Regions from separate parts of the Homo sapiens genome. Here region 2 is linked to region 1. A link means that fine-mapping ties the variant in region 1 to the expression of a gene that starts in the linked region. Tissue or cell type: tibial artery. Region 1 holds a variant in brackets; the other region holds the start of a gene. All regions are shown on one strand. Distances are from middle to middle.

What was found. PIP is the estimated chance that this variant, and not a neighbour inherited with it, causes the effect.
Region 2: CNNM3 starts here. The variant in region 1 is fine-mapped to the expression of CNNM3 in tibial artery (GTEx, PIP 0.96).

What each region holds. Positions count from the first base shown.
Region 1 is chr2:96,615,560-96,620,705 of GRCh38, forward strand. KANSL3 (KAT8 regulatory NSL complex subunit 3) reads right to left here. Exons shown (of 21, transcript NM_001115016.3): 4 at 4,113-4,203; 5 at 3,800-3,985. Among named protein-coding and RNA genes, the nearest start is that of KANSL3, 20 kb to the right of the region's middle. The variant T/C (reference allele first, on the strand shown) is at 2,380.
Region 2 is chr2:96,813,805-96,818,950 of GRCh38, forward strand. CNNM3 (cyclin and CBS domain divalent metal cation transport mediator 3) reads left to right here and starts at 2,464. Exons shown (of 8, transcript NM_017623.5): 1 at 2,464-3,698. The coding sequence starts at 2,474. RefSeq lists an enhancer at 1,611-1,730 and silencers at 2,071-3,050, 3,061-3,200, 3,211-3,320.

The DNA of each region.
Region 1 (5,146 bases):
AATGTTTAAATATTAGAGGCAGTTTTCAGAGAAAGAAAAAGGTTTTGAAAAATTGGAGAATAAAAAGTACTACGGTTTGATGCAAGTTGTAAAACTCCAAAAATAGCAGAAGATAAGTTGCTCTTAATTTAAAAACAGGGACACTAAAAGGATTTCTGTATGAGAAATTAGAGAATTATAACCATTAGACTTTCTCAGTTTAACTCAGGAAAGAAATATTCGTGCAACTGCTTTTACAAGGTACCAGGCTAGTACTGCAGAGGAATTTAATCTACAAGAGGTAAGGAAGACAAACACACAAATAATGGTGGGGGACAGGAATAGGGAAAGACCGATAACTGCCATGAAAGAAACAGAAGCCCAAACTGCTATGATTCAAACCACCCAATGGAGAAGAAGTTAAGAGGCAATTTTCATCTAAAGATACAGCATGTGAAATGAGACAGGCTCTTTGGAACAGGCAGGATTCCAACAGAAGATGAGAGAAAAGCCTTCCCATCAGAGACACCAGCAAGAGGCAAGAATGTGTAGAGCTTATTCCAGGCACAGATGGACAAAAGTCAAGGATGCAAGTAAGGAAGGAGGAGGATGTAAAAAGCCAGTAGGAAGGATAGGACCAAACCGCAAAGGATAAGACCAAACTGCAAAGGATCTTCATGTTCTTTGTAACTCACTCTAGAACTGTGAGCCACTCAACACTTTGAGGCAAAGGATGTGACCCTGGGTTAAGCTTTATCTAACAGTAGTATATAGCTTTGAAACCAAAAAGCCTTGACACTTGCTTCCTGTCAACAAGGGATAAAAAATCAATACTGACTTTTCCACTTGGAGCTGGGAAGACCAAGCTTCCCTGGCCCTTCCAGCATTGCATTCACTCTCAACAGCCAATTAAAAGGCTAAGGTCTATACCTTCTCTGCCCTCTTTATCATAATGGATCTAATAGTGAAAGTAGCTGGGTGAAGAGCATGATCCCATCCACCTGCGCTTTCACATCCAGCAGGCACTTTAAAAGTAAAACAATCCTATAATCATTTATATCCTTTGGGAAACAACCAAAGTATTTGTTGTGAATCTAAATATAGTCATGGGAAAATAAGAGTCCGATGGCAGAGGAACCACTGCGGAGAGCACAGCCCAGAGAGGATGTTGCCTTGAGTCTGAGGCCCTTGCTGACTGGTGTACCAGCGAGCCTTCCACTATTCCAGTCAACCCACACCGTGGCCCAGCAGCATGGGAGGAAAACACCCAACTATGCATGCTATGGAGTCCCCCCAGTGGTCTGCCATGCTCATAATATCCGACATGCACCCAGGAGATGTCCAGTCAGTAACTTAAATAGGGCAGCAGTACAAATTCCTCCTTAAAGGGAAATTATGCTAGCCACAGTGAGTGAAGCAGGGTCACCAGAGAACTGAGACCCTGGCCACTACCAACACTCATCTCCTACAGTGTATTCACCAATGTTACACTTTTACCGTAGGTAGAATGCTGAGGAGAACATATGTGAAGATGCCTACGATACTTCTGGGCCACCACTCTCTGTCTGCCAGGATCCAGTCTGGGCCCCACACTCTACCTGCCCACCACTCACCTCCCGGGTCCAGGGTTTCTACTACAGGGGAGCAGTACAGGGGAAAGTCTGGGACTCCCTTTTCATTTGTCTCTTTCTTCACTAGAAAATACACTCCACCAGAGAAGGGACCAGTTTTGTTTTGCTCACCCCAGTACCTGACACACGTAGGGCCCAAAATAAGTATTAGTTAAACAAAAAAACTAGTGTCAAATTTCCTACCATGAATATCATTAATGTATCTAGTCCTGAGTTTTATTTCAGCACTAAACCAGTCTTCTAACAAACTTGGCACCCTTTAACTTAAAAACACATAAGAAACAATGAGTCTGCAAGTTTTGGGGATGTGGCTGAGGGAACGTGTTGGCCAGGCAACTTACAGCAGCAAGATGAGCCAGCTTCCTGTGAAGCAGAAAGTAAAACTATTAAAAAAAAAAAAAAAAGTGTCAAAAACTGAATCATGCTTATGCCTGTAATCCCAGCAATTTGGGAGGACAAGATGGGAGGACTGCTTGAGGCCAGGAATTCAAGACGAGCCTATAGCAAGACCGTCTCTACAAAAAAATTAAAAATTTAGCTGGGTGTGGCAGGGCACGGCAGCTCACGCCTGTAATCCCAGCACTTTGGGAGGCCGAGGCGGGCGGATCACGAGGTCAGGAGATCGAGACATGGTGAAACCCTATCTCTACTAAAAATACAAAAAAAATTAGCTGGGCGGGGTGGCACACGCCTGTAGTCTCAGCTACTCAGGAGGCTGAGGCAGAATTGCTTCAACCCAGGAGGCAGAAGTTGCAGTGAGCCGAGATCG[T/C]GCCACTGCATTCCAGCCTGGGCGACAGAGTGAGACTTTGTCTCAAAAAAAAAAAAAAAAAAAATTTCTTTGCTGGGTGTGGTGGTAGCACACACCTCTAGTCCCAGTACTTGGGAGGCTGAGGCAGACGGATTGCTTGAGCCCAGGAGTTCGAAGTTATAGCAAGCAATGATAGTGCCACTGCACTCCAGCCTGAGTGAGAGAGGAAGATCCTGTCTCCAAAGAAAAAAAAAAAAGGCCTCAGACAACTTGGATTGATTTGGTTCTTTCTCTTCTCTCTCTCTCTCTTTCTTAGAGACAGGGACTCCCTCTGTCACCCAGGCTGGAGTGCAGTGGTGGGACTGAACTCACTACAGCCTCCTCCCACCAGCCTCCTAACTAGCTGGGACTACAGACGTGTGCCACCATGCCTGGCTAATTATTTTATTTTTAGTAGAGACAAGGTCTTGCTATGTTGCTCAGGCTGGTCTCAAACTCCTGAGCTAAAGCGATCCTCCTGCCTCAGCCTCCCGAAGTGCTAGGATAATAGGCATGAGCTACTATGCCCGGCCGTGAGGCCATTTTGTATTGGAGCAAAACACCCCAAATATTTCAAGAACCTATGAGGGTACTACTTAAATAACTGTTAATATTAGTAATAATAATTACTGTGGGCTCACTGCTTACTATGTGCCCAATTTTGTGTTAAGCCCCCTACCTGAATTAACTAATTTAATTTTCATAAAAATCCTAGATAGCTATTATTATCAGCCACATTTTAGAGATGAGACACCAGTCCAAGCTTACACAGCTAATCAGTAACAAAGCTGAGATCAGCCAGGCAATCTGCCTCCAGCATCCGCATTCTACCACATTGACGATAGCCTGATGCAATCACTGGAATCACCAAGAAAAACAGTTTAACTTTGTGCAATACTAAGTAAGAAAGCAGGGAACTATAATGATATGTTTGTACTGAATTATAAAAGTCTAAGTGTTGCTACTAAAGGCTCATGCCCTGGGGAGCAGAATTGAAGGCATCACGGCACGTTCCTGCTCTGCAATCTCCCAGTGCTCCGAGCACCAAGGGTCTGCTTCTGTCACCTTTCTCAACAAACTCTTCCCTGGTAAACCCTTCGTCTCCTTCATGATAATTCAATTCAGCCATGACTCAAACCACAAGCTGCAAGGCTAGGAAGGCTAAATGTATACTCTGGTTTTCAGGCCCCATACCTCATCCTGGAGCCAGCAGGGCTGAAAACGTTTACACCAGACACAAATGTGAAATGATACCCTGTCTCCCAATTTTAGTACCAAACCCATTAGTTTTGGCCATGCACTCCAGACCGACCAGATAATTACTTTGCCTAACCCCACATCCTGAACCCACAGGGGAGGATGGCTATCCCTAGGACAGGGCAGACCCCAATCACAGCCTTACCTTCCCCTTCAGCGTCTGCAAAGCATCCAGGTAGGCTGCCAGCATGGGCAGACTCAAGGTCTCCACAAGGGTGGTGTGCAGCCACTGGATCAGCTTGGTATCCCAGCTCACACTTGCCAGAGCCTGCCGCACTCTCCTTGCACACTTGTCCACAGCAACACGGCGCAGCACTGGCTCATTACAAGCCTGAAGGATGTAAGTGGAAGTAATAAAACATGAGGACTACCTGGTTAACAAGCAGGGGGACAAGTCAGTCAGCCAGTGAGGCCTGAACTACGAAGAGCCCACTGTGGGCGGATTGCTGGTGTCTTACCCCTTCGTTGGCCAAGCGGGCAAGCCGGTCAGACTGCAGGGCTTTGAGGATCTTGTTGAATAGCTTGTTCTGGGCCATTGTCCAGCCAGTCCTATAAGGGAAACTCTGAGGAATTATAGTCAAACCCTGGGGACGCTCCCCATGTATGTACACCATATAAAGAAGATTATGCCATAGTTTTATGTCTCTGCTAGGGAACAGTAAAACGAAGTAGCTTAGTCTAAGACCACTGACCTAAAACACAAGACCTAGATTCTTCTGGTCTCAATCCTACCAAATCAAATCGTCACAGCACACACTTGTATTAATAATACACACATACACACAATAATATACACAGTACAAGTCAAGACTAGTCATGAAAAAAGTCTTTCAGGCTAGCAAAGCTAATTACTTACTTAGTAGCTAAAATTATTCCAATCATAAATAAACGCACAGCACCACTGAACAGACGACATATTTGAATTTCATAAGTTTTATATTTCACACAAAAAGGCAGACAGGATCAGCAAGCATTTTAATGTACTAAAATCTCAGACTGAGGTAAGAATTCTATTTAAACTAGGCTTAAGAACAAAAATATAGCAGAAATATAACCAATAAAGAGGCTATTCTTCCACTCCTCAATATTCTACCCCACACTAATCTCTCTTTTCCATATATATTTTTTGTATTTTTTCTATATGCCACACAATTAGCAAATTTATTTTTGAGAGGCCTGCTCCATATAAGCTAATATGTTATCATCCCAGCATACGGCACTGGTATTCACACATCTACCTTATTGCTTATTGCTTACCTATTACTTACTGAGGCTTTGTGTGTTGCAGACATCTATCCTACTGTTCTTATCTCCACCTCATCACACCCAGTTTAGTGATATGGAGCTTATTATTGTCCCCCTTCACCCCACTCCCAGCAATCTTAATTACTCAGATGCTCTAACTCTGGCTAGTGACCTTCCTAAAGATACCAAAAGAAAGGCAATTGAAGATGCTCTATTAATATGTGTTTTCCTATTCTCCCTGCCTTAA
Region 2 (5,146 bases), 200 kb after region 1:
TTCTTCAGAGGCATGATGTTGCAGTGCAAAGGCCCAGTAATGTCTTTATTGCTTCTGCTGGCGGCTTACTCTGTAATCTGCAAAAGTAAGGTAAACTCAAAGGGCACAGAACATCACCTGAATAATAAAAAACACGGAGATGCCCCATTGGCCTAGTCACAGCTCTGAGTTTACAATGCAGAAGAGACACTATTACCATCTTTTAAAAATACACTATTACCTTTTTTTTTTTGAGATGGAGTCTCGCTCTGTCACCCAGGCTGGAGTGCAGTGGTGCGATCTTGGCTCACTGCAACCTCCGACTGCCTCCCGGGTTCAAGCGATTCTCCTGCCGCAGCCTCCTCAGTAGTTGGGACTACAGGCACCCGCCACCAAGCCCGGCTAATTTTTTGTATTTTTCGTAGAGACGGGGTTTCACCGTGTTAGCCAGGATGGTCTCCATCTTCTGACCTCGTGATGTGCCCGCCTTAGCCTCCCAAAGTGCTGGGATTACAGGCATGAGCCACCGCGCCGGGCCACTATTACCATTTTTTTTTTTTTGAGACATAGTCTTGCTCTGTCGCCCAGGCTGGAGTGCAGTGGCGTGGTCTCAGCTCACTGCAAGCTCCGCCTCCCGGGTTCACACCATTCTCCTGCCTCAGCCTCCCGAGTAGCTGGGACTACAGGTGCACGCCACCACACCTGGCTAATTTTTTGTATTTTTAGTACAGATGGGGTTTCACCATGTTAGTCCGGATGGTCTCGATCTCCTGACCTCGTGATCCGCCCGCCTCCGCCTCCCAAAGTGCTGGGATTACAGGCGTGAGCCACCGTGCCCGGCCAGCTATTACCATCTTTTAAAAAGTTTTTTACAGGCCGGGCGCGGTGGCTCACGCTTGTAATCCCAGCACTTTGGGAGGCCAAGGTGGGTGGATCACGAGGTCAGGAGATCGAGACCACGGTGAAACCCCGTCTCTACTAAAAATACAAAAAAATTAGCCGGGCGTGGTGGCGGGCGCCTGTAGTCCCAGCTACTCGGAGAGGCTGAGGCAGGAGAATGGCGTGAACCCGGGAGGCGGAGCTTGCAGTGAGCCGAGACTGCGTCACTGCACTCCAGCCTGGGTGACAGAGCGAGACTCCGTCTCAAAAAAAAAAAAAAAAGTTTTTTACAAAGCCTTTTCCTTTGGTCACTCACCACCAGCTTACTCATTTTTTTTTTTTTTTGCACATTACCTTCCACACAAGTTTTACTTTGTGGCCACAATGTGCATACTTTTTTTGATTGTTACTTTCATGACATAGCAAATTGTTTCTATAGAGTCTTTATAAAGGTCATTTAAAATGACATGTGCAGTAAGTCAAAGTCTTCTTGTGCTAGGAAATTTGAAAAAACAAAAGTGTAGAGAAAAATACAAAAATTACTGAATCTGAACATCTATAGAGAAGTGTTGTTAGCAGTTGGTTTATTTCCTTCCAATCACATACAGATCATATCTGATGGGTAAAGAATATTCCATACTGTCAACAGACCACACTGTCTTCTAAAATCGCTTCAGCAGTGAGGATCCTCTGGAATAGATCTTGTTAATCCTGAGGAATTATTCTCCCAGCGGTGAGCTATGAGAAGTGGAATCACCAGATGTAGTAATTCCTGACAGAACTGCCGCCTGCTTGTGTGGCTGAGATGCTGACCTAGGTATCAGGCTGGTCGCGCCGGAACCCAGCACCCACGCTGAGTCTTTCTGAGCTCCACTCTGCTCCTGTTAGATATTAACCACCTGAGGTAGCTGTCCAGATTCAAGGCGGTAGTGATTTTGTGTGTCTGTGTATTTATCACGGGGTCCGCGGCGGGAACGCAGGGGCTGTGTCCCACGTCCCCAAACCTCTAGTAGGGTACGGCGCGATGAACATCTTCCATAAACCTTAAACCTCCCGGCGCTCAGTCACTGGTTCTTATTTCAGCCCTCTTAGCCCCGTAGGTCGGCGCGCTGAAAACCTTTCTGGTACCTGGGGCCTTTCCTAAGAAAAAGGCACATGTCTCGCACATTTCAGTCTGGTCTGCAACTTCAGGCGCGCCAGCACCCGAGGTTCTTCCGACCGGCCGCTCCGCTCCCAAGCCGGGAACTTCCCAGAGAATTGGCTCGGCCTCCGGGCGCGGGGGACAGCATCGGGAGGAGTGGGACTCCGGGCGCCGCGCACGGGCCGAGGACAGCCGGGCTTGGGAGGCCCTGCCCGCCGCCCCGCGTCCTCCCGGCCACTGCCACCCCGCGCATCCGGAGCCGCAGCAGACTCGGCGGGGCCCGGAGCCCCACGCCCCCGGCCCGCCCCTGGCCGCCACTTGTTTACTCCCCGGCGCAGCCTAGTCCGACCCTGGGGCCCGCCCCCGCCCACCGCCTATTGGCCGAGGAGGCGCGAAGAGCCGTAACGATTGGCCCGGGGAGGCGCGGGGCGAGCGGGGTAGGCTGCGCGAGAGGCCGAGAGGGGGCAGCAGGCGATGGCGGCGGCGGTAGCTGCGGCGGGTCGGTTAGGCTGGTTGTTCGCCGCGCTCTGCCTGGGCAACGCCGCGGGGGAGGCCGCGCCGGGCCCGCGAGTGCTGGGCTTCTGCCTGGAGGAGGATGGAGCGGCGGGCGCGGGTTGGGTACGCGGAGGGGCGGCGCGGGACACGCCGGACGCCACCTTCCTCCTGCGCCTCTTCGGCCCGGGCTTCGCCAACAGCTCTTGGTCCTGGGTGGCCCCGGAGGGGGCGGGCTGCCGGGAGGAGGCGGCCTCCCCCGCGGGCGAGTGGCGCGCGCTGCTGCGCTTGCGCCTGCGGGCCGAGGCCGTGCGCCCGCACTCGGCGCTGCTGGCGGTGCGCGTGGAGCCGGGTGGCGGGGCGGCTGAGGAGGCGGCGCCGCCCTGGGCTCTGGGCCTGGGGGCGGCCGGGCTGCTGGCGCTGGCAGCGCTGGCGCGAGGCCTGCAGCTGAGCGCGCTGGCGCTGGCGCCTGCCGAGGTGCAGGTGCTGCGCGAGAGCGGCTCGGAGGCGGAGCGTGCGGCGGCGCGGCGTTTGGAGCCCGCGCGGCGCTGGGCCGGCTGCGCCTTGGGCGCGCTGCTGCTGCTGGCCAGCCTGGCGCAGGCGGCGCTGGCGGTGCTGCTGTACCGCGCGGCCGGCCAGCGTGCGGTGCCCGCCGTGTTGGGCAGCGCGGGGCTCGTGTTCCTGGTGGGAGAGGTGGTGCCGGCCGCCGTGAGCGGGCGCTGGACGCTGGCGCTGGCGCCGCGAGCGCTCGGCCTCAGCCGCCTGGCCGTCCTGCTCACTCTGCCCGTCGCGCTGCCCGTGGGGCAGCTGCTGGAGCTGGCGGCGCGGCCCGGGCGGCTGCGGGAGCGGGTGCTGGAGCTGGCGCGCGGCGGCGGCGACCCCTACAGCGATCTCAGCAAGGGCGTGCTGCGCTGCCGGACCGTGGAGGACGTGCTCACGCCCCTCGAAGACTGCTTCATGCTGGACGCCAGCACCGTGCTGGACTTCGGCGTCCTGGCCAGCATCATGCAGAGCGGCCACACGCGCATCCCGGTGTACGAGGAGGAGCGCTCCAACATCGTGGACATGCTCTACCTCAAGGACTTGGCCTTCGTGGATCCCGAAGACTGCACGCCGCTCAGCACCATCACTCGTTTCTACAACCATCCGCTCCACTTCGTCTTCAACGACACCAAGCTGGACGCTGTCCTGGAGGAATTCAAGCGAGGTAACGGCCCGGGCATGGTGCAGGGGACGCCCGTGCGAGTGCCCTCTCCCTGAAAAGGGGTGGAGAGTTATGGAAGCCTTCTGGAAAGGGTCCCACCCCTGTGGAGAGCAGTGAGACCTCTAAGGTCCCTTTTCAAGACGGTATTGGCCTTGCAGCTTGGAATGACCTTTTGAAATACTTAAAGGCCATCGATCAGAGTGGGAGGAATCCTTTAGACAGCGAACACTTTAACCCCCGCGTCAGGATAGCCCCCCCCCCCCATTTGCAGGGAGGGGTATGTCCGCTTGTCCTCTAATCCCCCAGCTCTTTCCCTCTCCCAGAGTGTTTCTGTGTGCTTGACTTTGTAGCAGGTCCAAATTTTTGGATAGAAACTAGAAGAACATAGAAAAGATGGTAGTCTCCAGGTATCTGGGATATTGTTGTGTGCACACATGTAATATCAAATTGACTGGACCTGTAATGTTTCCTTCAGAGCATTCTTAAGGTCCCTGGCGTTACTGCAGATAAGGGTATTTAGGTGTCAATCCCTTATCTGCGGTAAAGTCAGGGAAACTTAACACTTTGCTTTCACCAAAAGTAACTCCATTTATGCTGACTTAGTCTCCCTTTCTCCCAGCTCTGTCGCGCAGGCTGGAGTGCAGTGGCCGATCTCTTATCACTGCAACTTTCGCCTCCCAGGTTCAAGCAGTTCTCCTGCCTCAGCCTTCGAGTAGCTGGGACTACAGATGCACCCCACCATTCCGGGCTAATTTTTGTATTTTTAGTAAAGATGGGGTTTCACCACGTTGACCAAGCTGGTCTTGAACTCCTGACCAGGTGATCCACTTGCCTCGCCCTCCCAAAGTGCTGTGATTGCAGGCGTGAGCCACTGTGCCCGGCCCTTTTTTTTTTTTTTTTGCTTTTTAATCTCCTGTTTTTTAAAATTTTATGTAGAGACAGGGTCTCACTATTTTGCCCAGCCTGGTCTCGAACTCCTGACCTCAAGTGATCCTCCCACCTTGGCCTCCCAAAGTGTTGGGATTACAGGCGTGAGCCACCGCGCCCAGCCTCACCTCTTCTTTTCTAACCCTAAGGTCTCAAGTTCTCCCTTAACTCCACATTTTCATCCCTCCCTTCACTGTTTTAGCTGAGCAGTTCGGAGATTGAAGGTAAAACCAGTACCCTCCGGATGTGAAGGTGTGGTTTCTTCTGCAGTCCTCTCCAACATCATCCTTAGTGGTGCTCCCCAGAGTTTGGTGCTCAGACCTTGGTTAACAGCCATGCTTCTCACACCTGCACTCCTGTAGGGTGAGGGTGGGAGCACCCCAGGGTGTTGGATGGACTTGACCCTAAAGGCTGCCAGCTGTAAGGCCAAGAAGTGGCAAAGCCCCCTGGTATTTGTGGCAGGATGTTTCTGGCACCGTCTGTTGAGAGCCCCTGGCCTGTCGTTGCAGGAAGCCAGGCTTTGT